Linked DNA regions of Homo sapiens. The protein of the gene in region 1 interacts with the protein of each later gene in a pairwise test. Each region holds a gene or a part of one and is shown in the gene's direction. Other genes may lie near its edges.

What was found.
Region 2: the proteins of DIP2A (region 1) and IQUB interact in binary tests that used the Homo sapiens proteins (3 or more experiments, as listed by UniProt).
Region 3: the proteins of DIP2A (region 1) and CEP44 interact in binary tests that used the Homo sapiens proteins (3 or more experiments, as listed by UniProt).
Region 4: the proteins of DIP2A (region 1) and ZBTB43 interact in binary tests that used the Homo sapiens proteins (3 or more experiments, as listed by UniProt).

The regions. Positions count from the first base shown.
Region 1 is NC_000021.9:46,453,763-46,463,168, forward strand, and holds the start of DIP2A (disco-interacting protein 2 homolog A), read left to right. Parts: upstream 1-5,128; 5' UTR 5,129-5,369; coding exon 5,370-5,460; intron 5,461-8,708; exon of another isoform or gene 8,709-8,760; intron 8,761-8,949; exon of another isoform or gene 8,950-9,001; intron 9,002-9,303; exon of another isoform or gene 9,304-9,406. UniProt on the Homo sapiens protein: Catalyzes the de novo synthesis of acetyl-CoA in vitro. Promotes acetylation of CTTN, possibly by providing the acetyl donor, ensuring correct dendritic spine morphology and synaptic transmission.
Region 2 is NC_000007.14:123,450,734-123,455,763, reverse strand, and holds the end of IQUB (IQ motif and ubiquitin-like domain-containing protein), read left to right. Parts: exon of another isoform or gene 1-2,832; intron 2,833-2,838; coding exon 2,839-3,021; 3' UTR 3,022-3,571; downstream 3,572-5,030. UniProt on the Homo sapiens protein: Adapter protein that anchors the radial spoke 1 (RS1) complex to the A microtubule of outer doublet microtubules in axonemes. The triple radial spokes (RS1, RS2 and RS3) are required to modulate beating of the sperm flagellum.
Region 3 is NC_000004.12:174,285,859-174,294,985, forward strand, and holds part of CEP44 (centrosomal protein of 44 kDa), read left to right. Parts: intron 1-9,127. UniProt on the Homo sapiens protein: Centriole-enriched microtubule-binding protein involved in centriole biogenesis. In collaboration with CEP295 and POC1B, is required for the centriole-to-centrosome conversion by ensuring the formation of bona fide centriole wall.
Region 4 is NC_000009.12:126,808,040-126,815,347, forward strand, and holds part of ZBTB43 (zinc finger and BTB domain-containing protein 43), read left to right. Parts: intron 1-57; exon of another isoform or gene 58-153; intron 154-753; 5' UTR 754-876; intron 877-7,308. UniProt on the Homo sapiens protein: May be involved in transcriptional regulation.

The DNA.
Region 1 (9,406 bases):
GATAGAGTCTCACACTGTCACCTGGGCTGGAGTGCAATGGCATGATCTCGGCTCACTGCAACCTCCACCTCCCAGGTTCATGGGATTCTCCTGCCTCAGCCTCCCAAGTAGCTGGGATTACAGGTGCACACCACCACACCCAGCTAATTTTTTGTATTTTTAGTAGAGACAGGGTTTCACTATGTTGGCCAGACTGAACTCCTGACCTCGTGTTCCGCCCACCTTATCCTCCCAAAGTGCTGGGATTACAGGCGTGAGCCACTGTGCCCGGCCAGGGATACTTCTTAGATGAGTTTGCAGCAGTGTACCCAAAACAACTACTGGTTGACAGCAAATAGAGTAGGCTGCCATTCTCCAGGATCCTTGTGACTTCTGCAGGGGTCATGCTGGTAAATTAAAAATGTTGGTAACCACCACTTTACATCACTTGGATCCTTAGAAGTGGCACTTATCTCTGCCATTCCCGCTCTGGGATAATTGTTTTATAATCTTGGTAGGGGATGGGGCAGTTTCAGGTTTCTGTTTGGCTTTTTCCATTTTGTTATCTAACTCTATAGGTCAGGGACCTGGAATGAGCATTCACTGCCAAGTATGTCAATGCCAATTACTCACTCGAAGGCTAAGAAAATATCACTAGATCAGTCCACTAGGTCTACGGGTCCACTGTAAGCTGGACCTTTAGCAGAACTCCATCAATTACCTGGCCACCACATGCAGCCACTCTAACAGAAGGGGATGATATTCTAGGCATCTGGACATCAATTTAGACCCTGTGTCCACAAGTCTTCCAAATGTTTGGCTAATCACTTTTCTCCAGGATGTAGTTATCAAAAGAAATTGCTATCAGACCCTTTGGAAAAGTACCTGGGGATTCATTTCTGTTGTACTTGTACTGTTATAGGTCCTTCTTCCTGGTGTTTGGCCACCTCTCAAGTAATGTTTCCATTTCTGAAAACTGGCTCAGTTCCAGAAGCTGGGCATGGAATCCTGATTTTTTAAAACTGGGACAAGCATCTTTATTTATTTTTTTCAATTGAGACAGTCTTGCCACATTGCCCGGGCTGGAGTGCAGTGGTGCAACCACAGCTCACTGTAATCTTGAACTCCTGGGCTCAAGTGATCCTCCCACCTTAGCTTCCCCAAATGCTGAGATTACAGGCACAGGCCACCGTGCCTGGATGGATTTTTTTTTTTTTTTTTTTTTTTGCCAGCTGAGTAGTACCCTTCTTAGCTGCCCACCTGTTTTGCCTCCAGGGATGCCATGTTTATTGACCAGTTCTATAACCATACAAGTGAGGTCCCCTTGGCTGCCACTCAGACCCTGCTGGCTGCTATAATTGCAATCCTCTGACTTCTGCCAGCTAAGTGTTGCCTTTGGCTTCTTGGGTTTTTTTCTTTGGTCCCCACTATGTCCCAGAATGGCCTCTTTTGTCTTAGGATCCTATCATCCCCAGTGCTATCACCCAGCCAAGTTCTGGAACAGCCTTTCTATTGTCATTCTTGCCTACAGAGATGAGCCATCACTGAATATTTTAGTGACATCAGTGCCCCTTTCATCATCCTATGTCTAATGATCTTTATAAATGACGTGTTATTTACACCTTCATGTGGAATATGATCGTCTCAAATGTCTTCTAGATGCACGGAGTATATAAATTTCAACATGCCCACACCCCTGAACCTTTTACTCCCTTCCACCACTGTCTGCCATAGCAATTTTGCCATTTCAATTTTGCTTACCATGGCCCATGGCTTTTTCCAAGTGTGGTGTTTTAAAAATATACTGGCAAATTTTTTGATATTCTTCCCTTTAGAAGATGAAGCCTAATTCCTCTCCTTTTGAATATGGGTAATTTAGTGACTCATTTCTTCCAAATAGGAAGTAGCCGAAGTGATGGTATGCAACTTCTGAGGCTGGTTCACAAAAAGGATACAGCTTTCTTTTGTCCTTTGTCTTTAGATTGCCCTTGGAATCCAGCCATCATATTGTGAGAAAGCCTCGGCCACAGGGACCGGCCGTGTAGGGGTGTGCTGGCTGACATCCCCAATCTGGGCTGCAGCCAATCTCCAGTATCAGCTGTCAGACATTCGAGCAGATGAACCTTCACTCATTCCAACCTCTAGCCTCTGAACTGCTCCAGCTGAGGCCTCAGACACTGTGGAAGAGAGATAACCAATCCCCACTATGTCTGACCCACAGTAACCTAGAGAGATCACCGATCCCCACTATGTCTGACCCACAGTAACCTAGAGATAAGAAATGATTCTTGTTTTAAGCCACGAAGTGTGGAGTAATTTGTTAGGCAGCAGTAGCTATACCGCCATTCTAGGAGCCATCCTTGCAGGAAGTCTGCAGCCACTCTTTGCCAAGGTGTTAAATCACGTATTTCAATAAACACATCTATGCAAGTTTACATTCCAGCTCCCTTCATCAAGCACCCTCATAATCCAGCCCCAAACTTTCCCAGCTCCTGTCAGTACATGTTGGCTGGGTGGTACAGCTTGTTATGGGCTGAAGTGTGTCCCTCTCAAAAGATGCTGAAGCCCTAACCCCTGGTCAATGTGAATGTGACATTATTTGGAAATGGGTCTTTGTAGACAAGTTAAGATGCGCTCATTAGAGTGGGCCCTAATCAGTATGACTGGTGTCCTTCTAAAAAGAGGCCCATGTCGAATGACCTTTGTCAATGATGTTACTTATGCCTTCGTCTGGAGAGACACACACAACAAGATCACCATGTGAATATAAAGGCAGGACTGGGACAATGCCTCTATAAGCCAAGGAACCAAAGACTGCCAGCAAACCACCAGAAGCTGGGAGAGAGGCATGAGACAGATTCTCCCTCCCAGCCCCAGAAGGAACCAACCCTGTGAAAACTTTGATCTCAGACTTCTAGCCTCCAGAACTGGGAGACAATAAATGTCTGCCCAGTTTGTTACTGAAGCCCCAGCAAACTAATAACGCAGTTCTTCTGAGGGGGAGGGAGCTATATTCTCTTTTCTATCTCATTGTTTCCAGCTGAATAATGCAAAAGAAACAACCATAATTATACATCTACTGAGCAGTAAGTGGAGGGAGGAGGAGTAGTGTCAGGTTAATAGGAGAGGTGAGCCACCCCGGCAGGCTTCAGGTTCAAGGCAGGCCAGGTGTGATGGCTCACTGGAGCCTAGAAGTTTGAGACAAGCCCGGGCAACATAGCAAGACCTTGCCTCTACAAGTAATAAAAAATGTATCCAGGTGTGGTGACACATACCTGTAGTCCCAGTTACTTAGGAGGCTCAGGTGGGAGGATCGTTTGAGCCCAGGAAGTTGAGGCTACAGTGGGCCATGATCCAGCAACTGCACTCCAGCCTGGGCAACAGAGTGAGACACTGTCTACGAAAAAAAGGTTTAAGGCAGTTTGGGGAGTCAAAACCTTTGAAGGCATCTACCCAGGTATCTCCAACCCATGTATGACGGGCTTTTCTTTTCTTTCTTTTTTTTTTTTAAAAGACAGAGTCTCACTCCTGTTGCCCAGGCTGGAGTGCAGTCACAGCTCACTACAGCCCTGACTTCCAGGGCTCAGGTGATCCACCCACCTTAGCCTCCCAAGCAGCTGGGACCACAGCCGTGGCCACCATGCCCGGCTAATTTTTTGTGTTTTCAGTAGAGATGGGGTTTTGTCATGTTGCCCAAGCTGGTCTTGAACTCCTGAACTCAAGCAATCTTCCCGCCTTGGCCTCCCAAAGTGCTGGGATTACAGGTGTGAGCCACTGTGCCCAGCCTCATCTTTTCTTAGCAGGGATCCAAACTTAGTGGAAGAGTATTGCCTTGTTTGGGTGTTTTGCTATTTTTGGAGTTCAGTCAAACAGGGATGTTAATTCCTGGGCCTGGTTCTTGTCTTTGACCTGCTGCAGTAAATGAAGCTTCTCTATATGTAACGGGACAGATTCACTGGCTTACAACTGTTTGTTGCTTGCCTTCAGCTGACCACTATTCTTAAGAGTCTCGGTTGGCACTAAGCAATAGCTATCCAATCCCCCTTTCCTTCCTTTTATCTACTACGTTCACCATATATGAAATGTCTGATACTTCACCCACTCGTGGATTCCATTTCACTAGTTCACCCTCCTACTTCACCACTGGTGAGTGATGCAGCCTCGAATCCCATCTTCTCACCAGCTTTAATGCTGCAGAATGGTTTCTCCAGAAGCAGACGCTGCGACTGAGTTTGGGGTACGAGGATGTTGACATGGTATCAACACCCGTGAAAGGAAGGGGAAGGAAGCAGGACTGGGCGGAGGAAGAAGGGTATGTAAGTCCCGCAAAGCTTTGGCCAACCTCGTGTGGAGCTCTGGAACGAGAACTGCTGAAGTTCGCCAGACTCGGGCACTCCTGCCTAACTCAGTAACAGGCGGGCGGCATCGGGACACGGACACGCTGCTCAGGCCCCGCCACAGCCACCCTCGCACCGTCAGACACACTCCCACACATTCGGGGAGCAGGGCCTTCAGGACGCCGGCGGCGCCCTCTCAGTCTAGCTCCGCCAGGCCCCTCGTCCGTCCTCCCGCCCTCCAAGGTCACCTCGCGGTCCGACATGGCTGCTGGGGCTCCTTCGGGGCCAACGATGTGTACTTCTAGGGCTGTTTTTTAAAGCAAAGGAGTGAACACAGGTAAAGGCACGAGAAAGGTGCCTCGACGCCACCACGGACTGCGCAGCGTTCGCGATCAGCACAGCCCGAAAGGGAAGACAGCGGTCAACGCGGACGCGCCATGGCGCGGGGACCAAGGAGGAGCCCCGAGAGGGGCGGGGCTGGCCGGAGGGCCGCGCGCGGGGCCACCAGCGGCGCCTAGGGGTCAGCGCCAACGCCCACGGGTTGGTCATCCCCACTTAGGCGCCTCGGGCCGCAACTAAGCAGCCTGCCCGCCTCAAGCCCGCCACCCTCAAGCAGGCCCAGCGCAGAGCCTGTCGGGAGCGGCGCTCTCCCGCCTCTCCCAATGGGAGCCCGGAGCGGCATCGACGCGTCTTCGGGGCCAATGGAAGCGAGGCTCTGGTGTTGCTGGGCGGGGCCGGGAGGGCTGCGCGGGCCCGAGACCCACTGCGCACGCGCGCTCGCTACCCGCCCTTCCCGCCGCGCACGCGCTCCCGTGTAGGGCCGGCCGGGCGCTCAGGAGCGCGCGGGGCAGCGGCGGCGCGGCGGAGCCATCCGCGCTCGTGCCCGCGCGGGTGCGTTGCTGTCCTGGCCGCGCCCCTGTCCCGCCGCCTCCCGCTCCTCGCCTGGCGGATGTAGGTTGTTGGCCTGAGGGGAGCTACGTAGCCGAGGTTTGCGCTGCCGCCGCCAGGCCCGGTCCGGTTCCAGCCTCTGCCCGGACGCTAGCCGGCCTGGCCATGGCTGACCGCGGGTGCCCGCTGGAGGCGGCGCCGCTGCCTGCCGAGGTGCGGGAGAGCCTGGCTGAGCTGGAGCTGGAGCTGTCGGAAGGTGAGCCGGACCCCGCCCTCAACCCCCGCGACCCGCCCTCAGCCCGGTCCCCCGCGCAGCCCCTCACTCCGGGACCCCCGCGCGGCCCCTCACTCCAGGACCCCCGCCCTTCACCCCCGGGACCCCCACGCGGCCTCGCCCCTGGGACCTCTGCCCCTCAACGGGACCCCGGTTCCTCTACCCTGGAACCCGCCCCTCGCCCCGGAGACACCGTTCCTCAACCCTAGGACCCCGCCCCTCATGTGGGACCCCAGCACGACCCCTCGCCCCGAGACCCCGGCCCCTTACCCCCGGGAACTCCCGCCCCTCACCCCCGGGACCTCCTGCCCCTCACCCCCGGAACCCCGCGCGGCCCCTCACCCCGGGGACCCCGCCCTTCACCCTGGGAGCCCCGCGCTGCCCCTCCGGACTCCCGACCCTCAGCCCCGGGACACCCGCGCGGCCCCTCAAACCAGGGACCACTGCCCCGCCTCTCATACAAGGACCCCTCCCCCATACAAGGACTCCTCCCCCCAGGCCCTTCACACCTGGGACCCTTACTCCTCACCCCGGGACGCCTGCCAAACTTCTGGAGACCTTTCCCTATCCCCAGCTGCTCCCCCAATGGGATCCGACCCCAAGGACTGGCTTTGACTAGGTCGTTTGGACAGGTGTGAGAATCTTGAGAGGAATGACCACTTTTGCCCCAAGCTGTGAGCCCCGCTTTTCTCAAGGCTGTAGGTCTGGGCTTGGTCTGGGCTTCACCAGGATGACTGCGCCCGTTGTCCGCAGGCAGCTACTTCCCTTGGAGCTGGGAGCCCTTGCCGCGCGCCTCATACTCTAGGAGCTGCACCCTGTGCCTCATTTTATTATCTATAAAGTGGGGTTATACCAGCACTTTCCATTTTGGATTGTTATGAGGCTAAAATACCTTAATATATGCAAAGCACATAACACTTAGGAGTTGTTAGCCCCCTCATGGAATTTTTTAAAGTAAAAAAAAAAAGTCGTATAAATGGTTGGTTGATAAAAATAGACTGGAGTAATCTGGCTTCAGAGGTGGTGGGTGGCATTTCCCATTTGGATGTTATCCCTTTCAAGGCCTGTGTCCTGATATTCCTTTTGGCTGTCTTTGGGAAAGAGTTAAGTTCTTCTCCAGTGTCAGAAAGGACTTGCAGTCCTTGAAGAAAAGCATGTAATTGATTCTTACTCTGTTTTTGAGATCTAAATGCATTTTCAGCTTTTAGAATCCATTTTTTAAATAATCTTATTATCCTTAATTTAAGTTTCAGATTGATAAGATTTTGCTGGGTCTGGGGTAGTTATTTCTCAAAACATCTAAATAATATGCACTAGCATACAGTAAGTCATTTAATCCTTGCCAACCTTAGGGAGGTAGATGCTGTTGTGATCTTGTTTTACATATAATACAACATGTACTTGCAACTATTTTGAATTCAGCATTCAGATTTTTAACAATGTTGTGACATGTGGCACATTTTTTTTTTTTGAGACGGAGTCTTGCTCTGTTGCCCAGGCTGGAGTGCAATGGCGTGATCTCGGCTCACTGCAACCTCTGCCTCCCAGGTAGAAATGATTCTTCTGCCTCAGCCTCCCGAGTAGCTGGGATTACAGGGGCTTGCCACCACGCCCAGCTAATTTTCGTATTTTTAGTAGAGGCAAGGTATCACCATGTTGACCAGGCTGGTCTCAAACTCCTGACCTCAGGTGGTCCGCCTGCCTCGGCCTCCCAAAGTGCTGGGATTACAGGCATGAGCCACCGTGCCTGGCTTGTGGCACATTTTTAAAAATGGAAGTACAGGCTGAGTACACAGTGGCTCATGCTTGTAATCCCAACACTTTGGGAGGCCACGTTGGCTTGGAGACGGGAGTTCAGAACAGCTTGGGTAACATAGCAAGACTCTGTCTCTACAGTATTAAAAAAAATTAGCTGGGCATGGTGGTGTGCACCTGTAGTCCCAGCTACTTGGGAGGCTGAGGCAGGAGGATCACCTGAGCACTGGAGCACTCCAGCCTGGGCAACAGAGCGAGAACCTGTCTCTTCTCACCAAAAAAAAAAAAAAAAAAAAAAGGAAAGAAATGGATGGATTTGAGAATTCTTGGTGATTAGATGCTCCTAGGCAGTCTGACAAACTTAAATTAGGAATGGGTTTGACAGGATCTACTGTACTGCATTTGTTAAGGCTCTTTAGGGAAAATCACATATACGCAGTTTAGATTCTGTGCATTTCAAACATATTTTTGCGTATTGCTCCTAATTTCTGCTCCAATGTATTCATTATTCCCTCAATTTTTTGTGTTGTAGTTGTGTTTGAGTGCTTGCTAGGCATTGACAATTGAATCCTTTCCTCAAAGAACTTTATAATTTGTGCGACAGAACACAAGTACTTAAATGAAAGAAATGTTTCCTATCTGTTGGATCCATTTATGCTATTGTCATCTTAGAGATATGTAGGGGATGTATAGGTAAGTAAAGGTATAAGATTATGTAACATGGAGAGGAACCTCGAAAAATAGCTTAAGCTGAGAAAGGGGGTAAACAAAAAAAGTATTGAGCCCAGAAATGGTGGCTTAGGCCTGTTATGTTTGCATTTTGGGAGGCCCAGGCAGGAGGATCACTTGAGCCCAGGAGTTTGAGACCAGCCTAGGCAACATAGGGAGACCCTGCCTCTTCCAAAAAAAAAAAAAAATTGGCTGGGCATGGTGGTGTGTGCCTGTAGTCCCAGCTACTTGAGGGGCCGAGGTGGGAGGATCACCTGACGAGGTTGTGAGCCTTTATAGTGTCACTGCATTCCAGCCTGGGAGACAGAGTGGGACCTTGTCTCAAAAAAAAGTGTTAAAGGGAAGACAGCAGAGAACAGAGTAGTAGAGTGGCAGCCAAGGAGGTGGAAGCTCTGGCTTCTTGGCTTCTTTCCCTGCTCCTAGACTGGCCTGACACTTTTCTTTTGGCCAAAATAGGTCAGTGATTACTTAGGCACAGTCACACGTGGACCTGCTTCCAGGGCGCTTCCACAGGTTAATGCTGGCTTATGTAGTTTATGTGGTGGTTGTTGTTGACGTGGGCTCTCCCTGTTGGATTTGGAGATGCTTACTGGTAAGGACTTTGTTTTAGGCAGATTTTTGGCTTCTTCACACAGTGGTGGGCATCTGGTAAAGTGTCTGTGAATCTCCTGTGGATTACAATGTCTCTAAACGTGGGTTTAGTTAGCTGTAAAAGGGGGTGAATACCAGCTTTATTGACATTCCAGGTTTATTGTCAAGATTCAGTCACATAGTGTGTGTGAAAATGCTTCGAAACTGGTAAGGTGTTTTATTTATATAATTAAAGGGAGATATTAGTAATGAGTTATAGTCCTAAAACAACCAACATTAGTGTTTCATTGTTATAATTTTTATATATTGTCAAAATAGTGTAACTTTTTTATAGCATTCACATTTATCTAAGTGAGAAATTGCCTAAAACTTAAGAGTTGTCACTGTGCTTGGTAGGTTGGAAGAAGAAGCTTAACAGTGACAAAGATGCTGTCTTCAACAGAAACTGGTAATGAGTGATACCTGAATAATCTAGAAAATCCTGCATGCCTTCCCCTCAGCCTGTTGAAAGTATCCTCTGCCTTTCTTCATACCTCACACCTGGCCTTATTCTCCAGCATCCTCACTGCATTCTCATCATCAACCATAGTGATTGGCGTTGGCCCTGAGGGAAGGTTCTGGTAGAATGCTATGATTTATTTCCATAGGGCAAGTTTGCTGAATTTCTGTTATAGATTCCCAAGAGGGAAATAAGGCATAGCTGTGTTCTTGCTCCTTAACTTTTCTGGCTGTTTTGCCCTCTTGACTTAGGAGTCTGCTTCAGATTAAGATGAAGATGAAGAGTAGAAGTACATGGAACCCCACTCTTCTTAGACCCCCTGCCCCCCAATCATGAACACATACAGAAGAATTC
Region 2 (5,030 bases), on another chromosome or scaffold:
CTCTTTGCTTCATAAATTTTTAGAAAGATTAGCTAAATAAGTGGAATCAGTAAAGAGGATAAAAGCAGCTCTGGCTCTGAATTCTAGCTTTACCATTCATGAGCTGGGAGAAATTGGACAAATTTGTGAATGTCTCAATGACCCAGCTTTCTCGTCTATAAAAAAGAGATAATGGTATCTCATCATAGGGAAGCTTTGAGTAGGCCATTATTTAAAGCTTTCTGCATAGTTTTTTTTGGCATGAATAAACTTAGGTAGTAACTATGAAAGCACTTTAAAAATTTTTGATGCATTTTATTTTTAATTTTAAAGCAATATATTATTGGCTTAGAATCTGAACAGAATAAAAAATGTAATGTAGAAAGTAAAGGTCTCAGAGGTTGAGGGAACAGGGAGAGATTTGTTAAGGATACAAAAATTATAGCTAGATGGGAGGAGTGAGTTCTAGTACTGTTCTGTGGCACTGTAGGTTGTCTATAGTTAATTACAATATATGGTTTCAAATAGCTAGACGCAGCATATCGAATGTTCCCAGCACAAAGAAATGATAAATGTTTGAGATGAATATGCTAATTACTCTGATCATGATATATGTATCATCCCATCACTATGTACCCCGTAAATATGTACAATTATTATCAATTTAAAAAATTTAAAAAACGACTGAATGAATAAATAAAGGGAGGCAAATAGACAAATCTCCCATGTAGAATTCCAAATAATTTATGTAGATACTCTCCACTCTTAAGGAGATGGAGAATAACTCTCTACCCTTTAAATGTGGGCTGTACATAATAACTCCTTTCCAAAGACTATATTATGGATGGAAGGGGAGGACCTTTACAGTAGAGAAACTTGACAAACACTACCTCAGCCAGGTAATCAAGATTAACAGCAGCAGTGCTGTCATGCTGATGGTGTGTACCCTTGATATGATGTGAGGAGAAGGGCACTTCACCCCTGTGGTCTTCCTCCCCAAAACCCATCCCTTCAGTCTAATAATAATGAAGAAAACACAGGACAAACCCAGATTGAGACACATTCAGGAAAATGTGGGTGTGGGGTATATGGGACCTTTCTGTAATATTCTTAGAACTATTTGTACACCCAAAGAATTTGTGAACATAGTTTAAAACCATCACATGGCTATTTCAAGAGAATGGACCTTATTTCAATGGGAAAAAAGGTCTCTTGATGTCCACCCATCCCTATCTCCATGTTGCAATGATAACTACTATTTCTTAGGTATATAATAATCTATTGAAATCCTTCTGGAAGTTTTCTATGTGTATGTAAGTATATATACTTTTACTGTAGCAGGAATTTCATATTAAATGACTCTGAGACTTAGTTTCTTTGCTTTACTTAACAATATAAATAATATAATATGGAAATATATTCAGTTATTTAAGAGTTACTTATTAGTGCCTTGAACACATATATCATAATTTATCTCATCTTTAATAATTTATAGTACTGTAAAGGCACCTTGAAAACCTATAAAGTTCTGTACATGTGTAAGTTAATATAGCATAATAAAGTGTGTTAGTTTTTCTTGAATGAAATATGGGCTAAGAAGTGGTAGAAACAAAGTTAGATTAGCTCAAAAGATGAATATTTTAACCTAGTAAATTTTTCTGTTAAGAGGAAATTTTAATAAGCCCAGGATACTCCTATATAATGTTTTCTGCTCTTTTGGTCCTTTCACCCAGGACTTTCTTTTATCTTTGATTTGACCCTCTGAAGAGACCTTTATTGAGGGAATGTCTTATTCTCAGAAAATAAATTTTAGGAAGAAGTATAGGTAGTATTTGTGATTTGATTGAAAAGAGGGCCAATTAAGATTAATAGGTAATAGATTATATTTATTAATTTAACCAGAATTTACTTTTGAATGTGCCAAATACTGTACTAAGTAATTACAGAGAAACAAGAAAATTTAATGAATATAACTTTTTGTTGTCTCAGTTGCATTTAGGTTCAGCTACAAGAACAGAAAAAGCAATTTATAATGATTTAATCAAATGTGGGTTTAGTTTTCTTATGTAACAAGAAAGTTCAAAGGTTGGCAGTTTGGGGCTAGTATGGTGGCTCCACCTTGTTCTCAGAAATTCAGGCCATCTCACTTTTTCCTCAGCCATATTTAATCTTCAGCTTTCTCTCTCATGCTTGGTGGGCTCTTAGTGATAGGATAGCTAGTTCATCTTCTTCATTACATGTACCTCTCAGTAATGGCAAAAGGCTAGAGGTGCTTGATAGGTGAGTCTTCCCACTCTCAAAAGTCCCTTTCAAAGGCTTTATTCAATTATATATATATAATTATATAAGGTTATATATATTGTGTATAATTAAATAATCTTGGAAGATATTTAGTTATCTCCTTAGATTCTTCTTGGTGGTGACAGTTTCTCAGACTTCCCTTGTTTTGTTTTGTTTTTATTTTTGTTTTTTCTCACCTCAATATCTATAACATTAATAATATATATATATATATATATATTCTAACTAGATACCCCCAGTTAGAATAAGGGCTAAGAAAGCTAGACACATCACACCCTATACAAAATCAGGCCTCTGGCTCAAATGGGAGAAAGAATGAATATTGAGTTGATAACTAGCAGTGGTTTAAACTTAGAGAAGTCAGAGGGAGAGTTGGGGAAAACTTCCAGGTTAAAGTATCATAGGAGCTGAGTCGTGAATGATGATAGACAACGTGAGAAAAATAAAGGTAGTCTGGGATGAAAGAATTGACAAGCAAAGGCACCGAGGCATGACAGTATTTTTACCTGGCAAAATATATCTGTGATATTTACTAGAATTTGATTTTTTTCTTTGCAGGGATATGAACGCTCATTTATTCACAAGATCAAACACAAACATATCCTGGCTAAGAACTATTTTTCTCAGGTTCCAGTGCTGGCTTCATTTATACTTGATGATGGTGAAATTGATGAGATCAGATGGAAGTATCACTCAGACACAACACCTAAGATTATAGAATCCCAGAGGCCTCCTCATTAGGTGATCCAGGAGTATTTGTTTGATGATCGGCATTTTGTTCACTGCTAATAGGGTAATACAGAGGTCACAGAGTATGGAAATGGAATTTAATCTGTTTATTGATTTTGTTTTTTGTTTTTCATAGTATTTTGAGTTATATAAAGAGAAAACATTTCTATATAAGTAAGTATTCTTTGTTAGGAAGTTGGTGCTAAATTGAAATGCAATTTTGTTACTGAAATTAATATTTTGGGGTAAAGAAAACATTTTAAAATGTGTTTTCACATTAAATTTTTTAAATTTTTTCAAGTATATTAGAGTTAAAATCTAACAAACAGCCAAATAAAAACTAGACAACTTTCAAGTTATTTATTTTAGATAGAATGTAGTTATAGGAAGCTAATCAGTATGTGGAGGGGAGGAAACATTATAAAGTGCTCTTTCTTGAAAACTTCTTTAAGTAGGATAAAAAAATTTATATTTTAGTATAGGCATTTGAATCTTTGCAGTTTATCGTCTGCTTTCACCTTCCATCCTTCTCATAATCCCAATAAAACAACACTTGAAACTATTTATAAATAAACAAAAAACCTTCATTCTGGGTAAACAATGGAGCTATTAGCATATGCAAGAAAAACTCCCTGTGGGCAATGGTGAAACTATAAGAAGAATAAACTGGTTAAATAAACCATAACAACGCCCTTCTCCAATAAACCAAAGGAGTGACCTTGACCACATATAAGTTAGGGACCTACAGTGATGAACAATGGTTTGCCAGTCAGTCTTAACAGGAAATGGATGGCACACTCGAAATAGCTTAAGCCAAGGAGAGTTTATTTACAAAGGGCCTTATTATAAGGTGTGGGTAGTGTGTAGGGAAACTAAAAGAATAGTGCAGGAACCCAGGGCTAGTATCAGACAGGCTATCTCTCCCTTTAGTCTCAAATGAACTTGGGGAGAAAGTCTGAGAACCCAGGAAGAGTGTAAAGAAGATAACTGAAAGGATCAATGACCAGCTGTAAAGGGAACGGCCAGGCATAGGGGAATCTCATGAACTAGAGAAATATACAATTTCATACTTCTTCCTTTCTCCAATGTCCTGCTTGGGTTTCCCGCTGGCCAAACCCAAAAGGAAAGCAGAAGGGGTAGGAGTCAGTTGACATAATTTTTAGGGCTTCAAGGCAAAGAGCAGAGTATGTAAGGGGAAGAGTAGATCTGGAGGGCTAAATAGAAAGTATCCAAATGGAGAAAGAATTAAAAGTGAACATCTATAATCAAATAGCAATATTTTACTCACTATCACACACAACATAGTTATATATACATAAAACATATGATTTTTCTCCTAATTCCAATCAGCAATTAATGAGGCTCTTCTCTCAAGTTTAGTTATCCAGTTATCAAGTTTAGTTATCAAGAACTTTTAAATATTTGTTCTATATAAATATTTGACAACATTTCAGCCACACATTTTGTAGGATAGCTAAAATTTTTCTTTACTTAGCCAGAGCACAGCACATGGCAGTTTTTAAGAAAGTAAACATCAGGGCGGGGGGAGGAGCCAAGATGGCCGAATAGGAACAGCTCCGGTCTACAGCTCCCAGCGTGAGCGACGCAGAAGATGGGTGATTTCTGCATTTCCATCTGAGGTACCGGGTTCATCTCACTAGGGAGTGCCAGACAGTGGGCGCAGGTTAGTGGGTGCGCGCACCGTGCACGAGCCGAAGCAGGGCGAGGCATTGCCTCGCTCGGGAAGCACAAGGGGTCAGGGAGTTCCCTTTCCTAGTCAAAGAAAGGGGTGACAGACAGCACCTGGAAAATCGGGTCACTCCCACCCAAATATGCGCTTTTCCGACAGGCTTAAAAAATGGCGCACCAGGAGATTATATCCCGCACCTGGCTCGGAGGGTCCTATGCCCACGGAGTCTCACTGATTGCTAGCACAGCAGACTGAGATCAAACTGCAAGGTGGCACCGAGGCTGGGGGAGGGGCGCCCGCCATTGCCCAGGCTTGCTTAGGTAAACAAAGC
Region 3 (9,127 bases), on another chromosome or scaffold:
TCTTGGGAAATCCCTTTTAGGCTTCCGTGTGTCCATCTACCCCCAGTCAGTCTAAAGGATATTAAATAGGGTTTACCTTCTTGGCCAGTGTTTTGTATAATGTGATTTCAGGATGACTTTCTCTTTTTCTAGTTATCTCCCATTTGACAGTACCTAAAATTATCTCTGTCTAGAAATGTAAATGTTTAGTTGAAGTAATTTATTGGCTGAAAAATAGTGACTAAAATGTGCATGCACAAGTCTATAAAGTATATTCAATAAGCTGTTGCCTACCATGTTGATAAAGGAGACTAGGAACAGAAAGGTAGGTTCATAAAGAGGGAGCAGTTGCTCTACCCTGGGGAAATGGCTGTGGAAATGAGTGGCGAGGGGCTTAAAGTAGGAAGCTTACTAAATTTAGGATTTTGTAAATCGGTGACCTTCTTACCTTTCCTTATTTAAAGATAGAGAAACGGTGTGTAAAGGGATGATTTGTATCCTGGACAGCTGGGTAATGCGAATTGGAGGAAAAGATCACACTAACCCAGCTTCACCTGATTTATGAATTGTTCTGTTTTCATTTTAATATAATGACTTCATTTTAATGTGATAACTTCATTTTAAAGGAGCTTCATTCTCAAAGGGTTCATTACTCAAGGTATTGTTATGTATTACTTTTCTTCTATGAAGTGTCCATGGACAGTTGTGGTAGATGTTTTTATGTAAGTTATTGAGTTTCACGTTACTGGCTGACTAGACTTTTATAGTTCAGAAACTTACCTCCTTCCAGCAAAGGTTCTTAATCGTTTATATACCTATTTATGACTCTTCTTTGGGAAAAATCTCCTTTGATAATCTAATGAAAGTCCCACTCCATGCAAGAAAATTAGTCATTTAGAAATAAATTCCATGCTATTACTTTTGGGGCAGTTTTTAAAAAATGAATCATTTTGTTTAAAGTCTCAGTTCGTTCAAATCTTTTGGTTCACGTATGTGTTTTTCTGTTGTGTACATTCTTCAGAGTCATATTCCTGTTTCATAGGCCCCATGTATGTCAGCTTTTAGTAGGTATCACCAGTAAGTTTTCCAAAATAATTGTACCATTTACTCTTTCTGTAAAAAGCATAGATATTTTGAATTTCTTGCCTTTTTTTCTGTGTTCACCTTTTCTTCTTGGAAGTAGACAGCTGGCTAACCAGCAGGAGTTTGGGACCGATGACAGTGCAAAACATCTTGACTGACAATGGTGGTGGCTTATTAAAGTGAAGAATCAGCATCAAGAGGGGGAATCGGTGTATTCCTTCTATTTCTAGGCCATTGGGATATAGGTCGTTATGGGACCCCAGGTAGTAACCCAGCTCATTCTGAAATAGAGCTGAGAAATGACAAGGATTAAGTGTTGCTTTTCAGGTAGAGTGCTATTTTGGACCCTTGGCACAGATTTTGGTTCTTTATTATGATAAGTACCAAGAAGGAAAAGAACTGGGTCTATTAGAGAAAATTAATGAGGGGGATTAATTAGTTTGGGATCTAAGACTTATTTGAGGTGGTGACATTTAAGCAGGATGCCGAGGGGTATTAGCCAGATGGAGAATGGGAGAGGGAAGGAGTTGCTCTGTATCTCTTCAAGCTTGAAGAAATGGCATGTGCAAAGGTGTTGAACAGCTTGAGATATCACCAAACATCCTTATCCAGGTCCAGGAACTTTATCCCAGATACCATTTCTGTTATTTGTTGCTTTCTATAATATTTTAAATTAACTAAATCACACACATTCTCTTTTTCATCATTACTTGGTAAGTGGAATGTTTTGATTTTCCCTTCTGGTTATGATTTACATGTATTAACTTATTAATACACGAAGATCAAAAAGTGACCAAAATTGTTCAAAAGGTACAATTTATTATAGGATAATTATAATTATTTCATGCTGACAATATGTTTATAAGTGTTTTGCAGTAACCTTTTTGTTTCTATAATTTCATGGTAAGAAAGAAAATGAATTAGGTAGAGCTAGTAATACCAGGTATAGACAAGAATGTAGTATTTAAAGCTAATATCTGAAATTCTCTTCTTGCATCTGCTAACTGAACGAGAAAATTCTGTGTGTGAGAATGGAAAACTTTGGGTGAAAAGTGAAAACTTGGATTTTGTAGTCCAGGCCCTTAATTAAGTAGATAACACACTCAGAAGGAGAAAATTTGGGGTGCTTTATATACAAAGGGACTATTTTTAGAGGTGTGTGTACAGGGATCTGGTGCTGCTTCATTTTTTAACCTGTTTATTGCGGTATGATTGACATACAGAAAGCTATAGACATTTAATGTATACAGTTTCTGTTTGGAGATAAGTAGATATTGTGAAACCATCCAACCATTATTACTACAAGAAATCAATGCCATCACCTTGAAAAGTTTCCTTCTACTCATCTTTTTTTCACGTTTTGTGATAAGAGCACTTAACATTAGATCTAACTTCTTAGCAAAATTTTAAGAATACAATATTGCTAATCACAGACACTGGGTTGTACCTGCAGATCTTATTTATTTTGCCTAACTGAAACTTTGTACCCTTTGAACAACAGCTTCCCATTTTGTTCTCCCCATGTTCCCTTACAACCACCATTCTATTCTCTGCTTGCATGTATTTGACTATTTTAGATTTCACATACATTGAGATAATACAGTATTTGTCTTTTTGTGTTTAGCTTATTTCACTTAGCATAATGTCCTTCAGGTTCATCCATGTTGTTGCAAATGGCAGGATTTCCTTCTTTTTTAAAGGCAAATTTGTTTATTCTCACATTTTTGTTGGGGTCCCTAAGGTTTTCTACATCTAAGATCATGTCATCTGCAAACAGATATTGTACCTCTTCTCTTTTTATTTGGATGTTTTTAATTTATTTTTCTTACCTAGTTATTCTGGCTAGGACTTAAAATACTACGCTGAATAGGAGAGGCTAAAGTAGGCAACCTTGCCTTGTTCCTCATCTTATGGGGAAAGCTTTCAGTTTTTTATCTTTAAGTATCTTAGCTGTGGGCTTCTCATAAATGGACTTTATTTTGTTTTTCCTTTACCTAATTTGCTATAAGGTTCTTCCATACCTAGTTTATTGGGAGTTTTTATCACAAAAGAGTATCGAATTTTGTCAAGTGCTTTTTCTGCATCTGTGCAGATGCCCATGTGAGTTTTATCCTTCATTCTATTAATGCAGTATATTACATTGGTTGGTTGTCATATGTTGAACCATCCTTGCATCACAATGAAAAATCCTACTTGGTCATGGTATATGATTCTTTTAATGTGCTGTTGTGTTTGGTTTGCTAACATTTCATTGAGGATTTTTACGTCTATATTCATCAAATGTATTAGACTGTAGTTTTCTTGTAGTGTATTTGTCTGGCTTTGGTATCAGGGTGATGCAGGCCTCAGAATGACTTTGGAAGTGTTCCCTCTTCTTTTTTTTTTTTTTTTAGATATGTTTAATAAGGTTTTGTATTAATTTTTCTTTAAATGTTTGCTAGAATGTATCTGGCTCTTGGCTTTTCTTTGTTGGGAATTTTTTGATTATTCCATCAATCTCCTTTTTTGTTATTTGTCTATTCAAGCATTCTATTTCTTCTTGATTCAGTCTTGGTAAGTTATATTTTTCTAGGAATTTACCCATTTTTTTTTAGATTGTCCAATTTGATGGCATATAATTGTTCATAATAGTCCCTTATGATACTTTTTATATCTGTGGGATCAATTGTGTCCTCTTTCATTTCTGATTTTGTTTGAGTCTTCTATTTTTAAAGTCTAGCCAAGGATTTGTTGATTTAGTTTGTCTTTTCAAAAGAGGAACTTTTAGTTTTGTCAATTTTTAAAATTGTTTTTCAATTTTCTATTTCATTTATTTCTAATCTAATCTTTATTATTTTCTTCCTTCTGCTAATTTTGGATTTAGTTTGTTCTTTTTCTAGTTCCTTGAGGTGTAAAGTTAGGTTGTTTTATTGAGACCTTTTTTTTTTTTTCTTTGAGACAGAGTCTTGCTCTGTCACCAGGCTGGAGTGCAGTGGCGTGATGATCTTGGCTTACTGCAACCTCCGCCTCCCGGGTTCAAGTGATTCTCCTGCCTCAGCCTCCCGAGTAGGTGGGAGTCCCAAGTAGGTGGGACTAGAGCCACGCACCACCATGCTCAGCTAATTTTTGTATTTTTTGTAGAGATGGGGTTTCACCATGTTAGCCAGGATGGTCTCAATCTCTTGACCTAGTGACCCGCCTGCCTCAGCCCCCAAAAGTGCTAGGATTATAGGCGTGAGCCACTGTGTCCTGCCTCTTTCTTCTTCTTAATGAATTTATTGCTATAAACACTTCTCTTATTCTGCTTTTACTGCATCCTATATGTTTGGGTATACTGTGTTTTTATTATTGTTTGTCTTGAGATATTTTATAATTTCTGTTTTGATTTATTCTTTGACCCAGTATTATTTAATAGTATGTTATTTAATTCCCCTGTATTTGTGAATTTTTCCATTTTCTTTCTATTATTGATTTCTAGTTTCATTCCCTCGTGATCAGACAAAATGTTTAGAATGTTTTTAGTCTTCTTAAATTTGTTAAGACTTGTTTTGTGACCTAGGCTGTGATCAGTTATAGAGAATGTTTCATGTCCTTTTGAGAAGAATGATTATTTTGCTATGGTTGGGTCTCATGTTCTGTATATGCATGTTAGGTCTTTGGTCTATAGTGTTGTATAGTTTGCAATTTACTTGTTGGTATTCTGTCCGGATGACCAGTACATTATAGACAGTGACGTATCAAAGTCTCCTTCTGTATTGTATTGATATCTATTTCTTCCTCCAATTCTATCAATATTTGCTGTTGGCATTCTGTCTGGATGACCTGTACATTATAGAGAGTGATGTATCAAAGTCTCCTTCTATATTGTATCGATATCTATTTCTTCCTTCAAATCTGTCAATGTTCACTGTATATTTTAAGGTGCTTTGATGTTGGGTGCATATGTATTTTTAGTTGTTGTATCTTTCTATTGAATTGACCCTTTTACTATTATATAATGCCTTCTTTGTCTCTTTTGACAGTTGTCGACTTAAAGTCTATTTTGTCTGATATAGATAGCCACCCTGCTCTCTTTTGGTTATAGTTTGCATGGAATATCTTTCTCAATCCCTTCACTTTTAGCCTACGTGTGTCCTTAAATGTTAGAGTCTCTTGTAGATAGCGTATAGTTGAGTGTTGTTTTTATTATCCATTTCAGCCATTCCATGTCTACTGAGAGCCCTTAATTATTAAAAATTTAAAGTAATAATTTTTAATAATTAAGTACTTAATTGTTTCCATTTTATTCATTGTTTTCTATTTGCTTTCTGTTTCTCCTGTTTTTCTCTTGTTTGTTGTCTTTGTGATTTGATGATTGTAGTAGAATGCTTTGATTTTTTTCTTTTTTTTGTTTATTTACTATACTTTTTATTTTGGTTACTATGGGGTTTGCATCAAATATTATGTAGTCATAGCAGGCTTTTTAAAGCTAGTAACAACTTCATTCATATTCAGAATCTCTACACTTCTCCCCCCTCTTCCTCACCAATGTATGTAATTGATTTCAGATTTTACTTCTTTCTATATTGTTTCTATTAACAAATTTCTGTGGTTGTTGTAGTTACTCATACTATTTTTGTCTTTTAATTTATATACTAGTGTTCAATGAGATTTACGTGCCACAGATTTCAGTATTGCAATATTCCATGTTTGTTTTCATGTTTGCTTTTAGCAGTGAGATGTATACTTTCATATGCTTTCATACTGTTGGTTTAGTATCTTTTCAGTTAACTTGAAGATCTCCTGTTAGCATTTCTTGTTAGGGCATGTCTAAAAGTGACAAACTCCCTGAGTTTTTTAATCTGAGGAAGTTTTCATGTTTTCTTTATTCTTTTATCTTTTTCTTTTCTTTTTTTTTTTTTTTTTTTTTTTTTCCAGGTCTGGCTCTGTTGCCCAGGCTGGAGTGCAGTGACATGATCTCAGCTCATTGCAACCTCAACCTCCTGGGCTCAAGTCAGCCTCCCACCACAGCCTCCCAGGTAGCTGGGACTAGAGGCATGCACCACCATGACTGGCTAATTTTTGTATTTTTTGTAGAGACAAGATTTCACCATGTTTGCCAGGGTGGTCTTGAACTCCTGAGCTCAAGCAATCTGCCTGCCCTCAGCCTCCTCAAGTGCTGGGATTACAGGTGTGAGCCACCATGCCTGGCTATTTCCTTCATTCCTGAAGACAGTTTTTTCAGGTAATTATTTTCAGTTGGCAGGTTTCTTTTTTTACTTTCAGTATGTTGAATATGTCATTCCCTCTCTCCTGGCCTGCAAGTGTTCTGCTGAGAAATTCACCAATACCTTTATGGAGGCTCTGTTATATGAAATAAGTTACTTTTCTGTCACTGCTGTCAAAATTTTTTCTCTGTCTTTGAATTTTGACAAATTCATTATAGTGTCTATTGGTACAGACCTCTTTGGCTTCAACCTATTTGGGAACTTTTGGGCTTCGTGAGTCTGGATGTCCATTTTCCTCCCTAGATTTGGTAAGTTTTCAGCCATAATCTAAATGTGCTTTCTGCCCCCTTTCTCTCTGTCTTTTTGCCTTCTGGAACTTTTATAATGTGTTTATTAAGTTACTTAGTGGTGTACCATAAGTCCCGTAGTATTACTTCATTTCACTTTTTATTCTTTTTAATATTTCTTCCTCTAATTGTATAATTTCATATGACCGGTGTTCAGGTTTGCTGATTCTTTCTTTTGGTTGATTGAGTCTGTTGTTGAAGCCTTCTATTGAATTTTTTAGTTCAGTCATTGTATCCTTCAGCTCTAGGATTTCTGTTTGGTTCTTTTTTATGCTTCTCCTTTATTGAACTTTTTGTTCATGTATTGTTTTCCTGATTTTTATTTCATTTTCTATCTGGGTTTGTTTATTTGTTTGTTTGTTTTTGTAGCTCATTGAGCTTAAGATGATTATTTTGAATTCTTTGTCAAGCAGATCATGGATCTTCATCTTGTTATAGTCAGTTTCTGTAACCTTATTGGTTTCCTTTGGCATGTTGTATTTACTAATAATCCCTTGAGTCTTTCATTGGTGTCTGTACATTTGAAGGAGCAGTTCCCACTTCTGTACTAAACAGAGTGATTTCAGTAGATGAAGATCTTCTCTTGCTGGGTCCCTTGGTGAGACTGACTTCCAAACCACAGTCACTTAGGTGGAGCCAGGTTGTGGGTCTGCTTACATGTTCAAAATCAGGTCTGCGGTTGTGGGCCTGTTACTGGGGCTTGGGTGGGTGTGGTTCCTTCTGGGTTCCCAGACAAACAAGTCTTCCTGTGAGACCTTGGACAGGTGAGTTGAAGCCCACATGCTGATGAGGCTGCTGCTGGGTCTGGAGCCAGTTCTGTAGTCACATGCCTGCTACTGGGGCATGATTCTGCCTTCTCAAAATGGCTTCTATCAGTCTTGGACTCCAGAAGGATGTCACAGCCTTCTACTTGGACCCATCAGGGCACTTTTATACATAGATGGTTGCTAAATTGGTGTTTCTGTGAAGGACAAGGGCTGGGGAGGTCCTGTTCCACTATCCTTTTCTAGCTAAAACCTTCTTTGATTTCTTTCATAGTTTTGTAATTTGTCACATACAGATCATTTACATATTTTGTTAGACTTATAAGTGTTTTTTGTGCTATGATAATGGTGTTTTTAGTTTTATATTTCATTCTAATCATTTATTGCCAGTATATAGGAAAACATTTGACTTTTGTATATTAACCTTATATACTGTGACTTTGCTATACTCACTTTTTACTTTTAGGGGGTTTTTTTTGTTAATTCTTTAGCATTTCCTAAATAAACAATCATGTCTTTTGCAAATGAAGACCACTTTATTCCTTTCTTCCTAAGGTATTTTATTTCCTTTGCTTGCTTCATTTCACTAGCTAGGACTTCTGGAACACTGTTGAATAGGAGTGGTGAGATAGGACATCCTCGTGTTATTCCCAGTCTTTGGGGGAAGTATACAGTTTCTCAGCCTTAAGTGTGGTGTTAGCTGTTGGTTTTTTTTGTAGGCTTTATGGCCATTCTAATAAGTGTGTAGTGGTATTTTGGTTTAATTTGCAAATCTCTAATGATAAATGATTTTGAGCCTCTTCATATTATTTACAATCCATATATCCTCTTTTTTTTTTTTTTTTATTGATCATTCTTGGGTGTTTCTCACAGAGGGGGATTTGGCAGGGTCATAGGACAATAGTGGAGGGAGGGTCAGCAGATAAACAAGTGAACAAAGGTCTCTGGTTTTCCTATGCAGAGGACCCTGCGGCCTTCCGCAGTGTTTGTGTCCCTGGGTACTTGAGATTAGGGAGTGGTGATGACTCTTAACGAGCATGCTGCCTTCAAGCATCTGTTTAACAAAGCACATCTTGCACCACCATTAATCCATTTAACCCTGAGTGGACACAGCACATGTTTCAGAGAGCACAGGGTTGGGGGTAGGGTCACCGATCAACAGGATCCCAAGGCAGAAGAATTTTTCTTAGTACAGAACAAAATGAAAAGTCTCCCGTGTCTACCTCTTTCTACACAGACATGGCAACCATCCGATTTCTCAATCCTTTCCCCGCCTTTCCCCCCTTTCTATTCCACAAAACCGCCATTGTCATCATGGCCCGTTCTCAATGAGCTGTTGGGTACACCTCCCAGACGGGGTGGTGGCTGGGCAGAGGGGCTCCTCACTTCCCAGTAGGGGCGGCCGGGCAGAGGCGCCCCTCACCTCCCAGACGGGGCGGCTGGCCGGGCGGGGGGCTGACCCCCCTACCTCCCTCCCGGAAGGGGTGGCTGGCCGGGCGGGGGGCTGACCACCCCCCACCTCCCTGCTGGGCGGGGGGCTGACCCCCCCACCTCCCTCCCGGACGGTGCGGCTGGCCGGGTGGGGGGCTGACCCCCCCACCTCCCTCCCGGACGGGACGGCTGGCCGGGCGGGGGGCTGATCCCCCCACCTCCCTCCCGGACGGGGCGGCTGGCCGGGCAGATGGGCTCCTCACTTCCCGGTAGGGGCGGCCAGGCAGAGGCGCCCCTCACCTCCTGGACGGGACGGCTGGCCGGGTGGGGGGCTGAC
Region 4 (7,308 bases), on another chromosome or scaffold:
ATGTTGTTAATTTCTTGAAATGAGTACTGTTTCTGCCTTCTGCTTTCTTGATTTCAGCTTCTTATCCTGAATTCTAATGCACGTGAGGGTACAGTTAAAAACATTTCCTTGGCTTTATTGAAATTCAATGGAAGGATGATCGATAAATGGGGGGTTAGTTTCTAGAACGTTACCTTCTCTTTTGAATCTCAGAGAGTTTGCTGTAATAGAATGTTTGTCCTAGAAGTTTTTAAGTAAAACATTCAGCCGTGGCTTAAAATTGAAGGGAATCATGAATCAAACTTCATAAAGCAGGTGGCTTGTTTTTTTAAAAAACATCTTAAAATAGTTTTTACTAAGTGATTTGGCCAAAGTGTTCTAATTAGGAAAAAAATGGAAGAATACTGATTGACAATGGTCAGGAGACCAATAGCACTGTTCCAAAGGATATATTAATTCTGCAAAATTACATAGTCATTGACCATGTTTTCTAGTTTTAATGAATATGCCACAGTAATGGATGAGAGGTATATGGGAGTTATGCACTATCTTTTCAGTTTTTTTGAAAATTTAAAATTATTACAAAATAAGTTTGTTTTTTTAAAAAATACAAAAGCAGGAGCTATGAAGTTGCAGAATGGAATTTAATATAACCAAAAATGCCAGTCTTGATTACTTTTCTTTCTGCCGCTAATGTACATCTCTAGTGTTTATTAGCAAATACACGTGTACATAGCATCTCTTTTACATTTTCACTGTTACTCTTCCTTCCAGAAGTCAATGTGATTTTAATTTGAAGCAAAACTGAAATGGGTTCTTCTTCCTCATTCTATTCATGTTGCTTTTTGATGGCCATGGCATAAGGAACTCTATCCCAGGAATACAGCTTTGCATTAGGTAAGCTATCAACTTGATCACGATACCATTTTTAAAGTTACTTACTGTAATCATTTCTCTTTTAGCAAAAATAATAATGTATTTTGTTAAGATTTTTAATTCCTCTAGACCAGAAGATTCTTTCTTCTCTTCTGAAGAGATGTTACACCTTCTAAGGCCCATCAATGCCATACTTTGCACTGATAGAACATTTAATGTCAGATAAATTTTTCTGCCAAGTGAATTTTTTTTCTTAACTTAGAAAAATGTTAGATTTGGAGTTATACTGCTGTTTGAATGCTGACATGCCATTTCTGAGACGTGTAACCACTGGCAGGTCTTTTAATTTGAGCTTCAGTTTACTCATATTTCAAAAGGATGCAATGATACGGGAGTGTTGCACAACGCAGGTTTACATAGTGTGCTTTGTGAACTCTAAAGCATTTCACTAATGTAAAGAGTAGGCATAGGGTATTGGTGTTTTTGTACATTTGTGCCAGGCTTTAAATTTACTGAAGCAACATTTACTATGTTTAAATATGCTTTCTATAGTAAGCATGCAAGTTACCATATGCTCTGATTAAAGAAACCTCTGAAGGACTTCACAATAAGTAGCTGGTGGGTCTGCTTCCCTATTATATTGCTGTCATCTGTGTTTTTAGGATGTTTAATAGGTGTTTAAATCACGTATAAAATTTGACTTGGAGTTCCTCAGCCGAATAATAAATAGTGGCTGTTATTAAACTCATCAAAGTTGGAAGGAATCTTGAAGGTCATCTAGTTCAGGATTTCTTCAGTATGTTGCCCTTCATCTGCGTTAAAAAAAGCCAAATAGCTTTTAAGAAGCATAGTGGAACAGGCTGGCATCGGTGTGTTTGTTTTAGAACTGTTGCTATTGGATTAAAAAAATAAAATACATGTGCAAAGTGGCATAAAACTGCTGGTATCTTTTTTTTTTTGAGACAGAGTCTCGCTTTGTCGCCCAGGCTAGAGTGCAGTGGCAGGATCTCAGCTCACTGCAAGCTCCACCTCCCAGGCTCAAGCAGTTCTCTGCCTCAGCCTTCAGAGTAGCTGGGATTACAGGTGCCGGCCACCACACCCGGCTAATTTTTTTGTATTTTTAGTAGAGATGGGGTTTCACCATCTTGGCCAGACTGGTCTTGAACTCCTGACCTTGTGATCCACGGGCCTCAGCCTCCCAAAGTGCTGGGATTACAGACGTGAGCCACCGCGCCCGGCCCACTAACTGCTGGTATCTTATTAAGGTTTTTGTTTGTTTGTTCATTTGTTTGTTTATTTGTTTGTTTGTTTGTTTTTGAGATGGAGTCTCGCTCTTGTTGCCCAGGCTGGAGTGCAGTGGCAGAATCTCCGCTCACTGCAACCTCTGCCTCCCAGGTTCAAGAGATTTTCCTTCCTCAGCCTCCTGAGTAGCTGGGATTACAGGCATCTGTCAGCATGCCCAGCTAATTTTGTATTTTTAGTAGAGACAGGGTTTCGCCTTCTTGGCCAGGCCAGTCTCAAACTCCTGACCACAGGTGATCCACCGTCTCGTGCTCCCAAAGTGCTGGGATTACAGGCATGAGCCACTGTGCCCAGCCGTCTTTTTTTTTTTTTTTTTTTTTTTTGAGATGGGGTCTCGCTCTGTCACACAGGCTGGAGCGCGTGGCGAGATCTTGGCTCACTGCGACCTCTGCCTCCCGGGTTCAAGTGATTCTCCTGCCTCAGCCTCCCAGGTAGCTGGGACTACAGGCATGGGCCACCATGCACAGCTAATTTTTTTTTGTACTTTTAGTAGAGAAGGGGTTTCACCATGTTGGCCAGGATGGTCTCCATCTTTTGACCTGGTGATCCGCCCGCCTCGGCCTCCCAAAGTACTGGGATTACAGGAGTGAGCCACCATGCCTGGCTTGGGCCATCTTAAGTCTAAGGATGGTCAGCGTGCGAAAGTTTGTGAATGCATTGTATATAATAAAATTATATAGATTATTTGTGAAAATGATATTCACGTTTACTTTCCATACTCTGAAACTATAGTGATATTCACAGCCAGGCACGATGGCTCATGCCTGTAATCCCAGCACTTTGGGAGGCCAAGGTGGGCAGATCACATGAGGGTCAGGAGTTCGAGACCAACCTGGCCAACATGGTGAAACCCCATCTCTACTAAAAACACAAAAATTAGCTGGGCGTGGTGTCACGCACCTGTGGTCTCAGCTACTCAGGAGGCTGAGGCAGGAGAATCGCTTGAACCTGGGAGGCGGAGGTTACAGTGAGCTGAAGTGGCACCACTGCCCTCCAGCCTGGGCGACAGAGACTCCATCTCAAAAAAAAAAAAAAAAAGAAGAAAAAATTATATTCACCTTTTCTTTCCACCTCTTAAGCTATAGTGGGCCTGAACAAGTACTTTGGATTTAAATCTCAATTTTACTGCTTACCAGTTATATGACCTTAAGTTGCTTAGCTTTTTTGTCTATCTCCAATTCTGTACAATGGAAGTAAAAAATACCTATTGAGTGGGTTGCTGTGAAGATTAAGTGAGACAGAGCATATAAAGTGCTTTGCATAGACTTTGTACAATGTCTGTATTAAGCAGTTTATATATTTGTATATGTATGTCATAAATAGTAGTTGCTGTTATTTCCTATTAATGATGACATTTTCCTAGTCACTCAGTCATGAAATTCAAAGTCGGCATTGGTACATCAGTTTGCCTTGCATTACTCTTTATTTTATTTATTTCTATTTTTTTGGGATGGAGTCTCACTCTGTCGCCCAGGCTGGAGTGCAGTGGGGTAATCTTGGCTCACTGCAGCCTCCGCCTCCTGGGTTCAAGTGATTCTTCTGCCTCAGCCTCCCGAGTAGCTGGGACTACAGGCACCCACCACCACACGCAGCTAATTTTTGTGTTTTTAGTAGAGACGGGGTTTCACCATATTAGTCAGGCTGGTCTCGAACTCCCGACCTTGTGATCCACCCACCTCGGCCTCCCGAAGTGCTGGGATTACAGGCGTGAGCCACCGCACCCGGCCACATTACTCTTTTTTAAACAGCTTTACAGAGACATAATTCATAAGTAATAAAGAGGTTTTTTTTTTGGTATATTCACAGATTTGTATACCCATCACCACAATCTAATTTTAGAACTTTTGTCTCCCCTCAAAGAAACCCAGTTAGCAGTTGCTCCCCATTTCTTCTACCTGTAGCCACGAATCTACTTTCTGTCTCTATGGATTTGTCTATTCTGGACATTTCATATAAGTGGAGTCATACAAGATACGGCCTTTTGTGTCCGACCTCTTTCATTTAGCATAACGTTTTCAAGTGCCAGCCGTGTTGTCACATCTATCAGTATTTCGTTCTTTTTTATTGCCAAACATCCTATTCTAAGGATATATCCTGTTTGTTTATCCAGTCATAAGTTGATGGAGCTTATGATGGTTTTCACTTTTTGGCTTTTAAGAATAATGCAGTTATGAACATTCATGTACGAGTTTTAGTGTGGACATCATATGTTTTCATTTTTCTTGGGTATGTACCTAGGAGAATTGTTGAATTAACGTGGTAACTCTATGTTTAACTCCCTGAGGTGCTGTCACACTGCTTTCCACAGTAGCTGTACCATTTTACATGCCCACCAGCAATGTATGGAGGTTATAATACCTACACATCCTCACCGACACCTGTTATTGTCTGTCTGTCTTTTGACAGCCATTTTAGTGAGTGAAAAGGGATGTTTAGTAGTTTTGATTTGCATTTTTCTAATTACTAATGATGTTGAGTGGTTTTCATATGCTTATAGGTTATTTGTATATCTTCTTTGGAGAAATGTCTCTTCAGATCCTTTATCTGTTTTTCAGTTGGGTTATTTATCTTTTTATTATTGAGTCATAAGAGTTCTTGAGGTATTCTGGATGCAAGTCACTCATTAGTTACATGATCTGCAAATAATTTCTCCTATTCTGTGGGTTGTGTGTTCACTTTCTTGATGGTATCATTTGTACCTTGTACTACTGCTGTATCTTCCTGCTGACCAGTTCTGTCAGTCTCATCAATGCCACCCCTTTTCCATACCCACTGTTACTTTTTTTTTTTTTCTTTTTTTTGAGATGTAGTTTTGCTCTTGTTGCCCAGGCTGGAGTGCTTTGGCATGATCTCGGCTCACTGCAACCTCCGCCTCCCAGGTTCAAGCAGTTCTGCTGTCTCAGCCTCCCGAATAGCTGGGATAACAGATGTGTGCCACCACGCCCGGCTAACTTTGTATTTTTAGTAGAGACAGGGTTTCACCATGTTGGCCAGGCCGGTCTGGAACTCCTGACTTCGAGTGATCCACGTGCCTCAGCCTCCCAAAATGCTGGGATAAAAGACGTGAGCCACCATGCCTGGCCCCACTGTTACTTTTATTACTACCTAGACTACACTTATTGAAATCCTATAATTAGCTTCTACTTCAGACTTTCTCCTGCTTTAGTCCGTCAGCAGATCAACCTTCCTTAACCATGCCTCACAGCACGTCACTTAGAAGTTTTCAGTGCTGCCCCAATGTAGACGTCTCATTCGGCTTTTTCTAGATTTATCTCCCATCACTCATTGTCACTCATAGAAGGAAGCACAAGTAATGATGTGTGTGTCACCAGGGTTAGTCTTGAGTGAAAGAGAGCCGAGGGAGATCTGAAATGGCTTTCTGATGGTAATTTCACCATAATCTAGGATCTTGCCGTTAGTGTGATTGGACCAATAACTCAGTGTCTTCAACATATCATACTTATGATGTACCAAACCCGCAAGAGATTAAAGTATACAAACCAGAATGCCATGTGATTTATAATTTTTCTTTCTATGTTAATAAGTGAGATTGGCTTGTAGGGTTTTTTTTGTTGTTGGCCAATTTTGATACCAGAGTTTTGTATAAAATTTATGAATTTTCTCCTACCCTATTGCCTTGTCCTCTTCTCCCCCTCTACTTTTTACATTTCTAGTTTTATCATATTGTGTAATCCATTGTATAGTCACATGTAATCAAATGTGCCCTGTGCATTTCCGCTTTGGAGAATTTATTGATGTTCTCTGTAGCCACGTATATTATCATTTTTGTAAATGTCCTACAGACAGTAGAAAAGGAGTATTATTTGTAGAGTATATAGGTATTGCATTAAATTAGCTTTATTGATAGCTGTCTAAACCTATAGATTCTTGTCCTTTGCCTACTTGATTTATTAAGAATTAAAGAGGGATACTTATATTTCCTGCTACAATTACAGTTCTGTTACTGTTGCCTTATTTTCTAACATTGTACTCTGACACATAAAAGTTCACAGAGTAAACTTCATTGTGAATTATAGGTTTCATCAGTTAACAATAAACTTTCATCCTGATTTTTACAGATGAAATTTACATCTGTAAAATTTTTACAGATGAAATTTACATCTGTAAAATGTAAATTTTACATCTGTAAAAATTTTACAGATGAAATTTACAAAGTAAATTTACATTGAAATTTACTTTGATATTAGTATTGTGTTGCTTGACTTTTGTTTTCATGTGACTTTTTTTTTTTTAAACTTTTGACCTTTTTGGTGATAAATTCTTTCAACTTTTCTATGTCTGAAAAAGTATTTTGGGCCGGGCGCGGTGGCTTACGCCTGTAATCCCAACACTTTGGGAGGCCGAGGTGGGCAGATCACGAGGTCAGGAGATCGAGACCATCCTGGCTAACACAGTGAAACACTGTCTCTACTAAAAATACAAAAAATTAGCCGGGCATGGTGGTGGATGCCCGTAGTCCCAGCTACTTGGGAGGCTGAGGCAGGAGAATGGTGTGAACCCAGGAGGCGGAGCTTGTAGTGAGCTGAGATTGCACCACTGTACTCCAGCCTGGGCAACAGAGCAAGACTCTGTCTAAAAAAGAAAGAAAGAAAGAAAGAAAAAGTATTTTGCCTTCACTTTGAAGATACTTTCATGGGTATAGAATTCTAAGTTGACAGGCCTTTCCGCCCCCTCCCCCACCTTCATTTCAGTATTTTAAAATGGTCTCCTGTCTCCTGGCTTGCATTGCTTCTGAGGTTCTCTGTACACAAGGGGCCTTTTTTTTGTCTGGCTGCTTTTAAGATTTTCTCCACTGATTTTAAGTGATTTGATTATGATGTGCCTTGCTGTAGTTTTTTTCATGTTTCTTGTGCTTGGAGTTTGTTGAGCTGCTTAGGTCTGTGAGTTCGTAGTTTTCATCAAATTTGAAAAAGTTTTGGCTGTTGTTTTCACATATGTATAAAATGTATGTGTGTATGTGTGTATTGTTTATATATATAGTTTTCAATATATAAAACTATATATATAGTTTTCAATATATAAAACTATATATATATAGTTTTCAATATATAAAACTATATATATATAGTTTTCAATATATAAAACTATATATATAGTTTTCAATATATAAAACTATATATATAGTTTTCA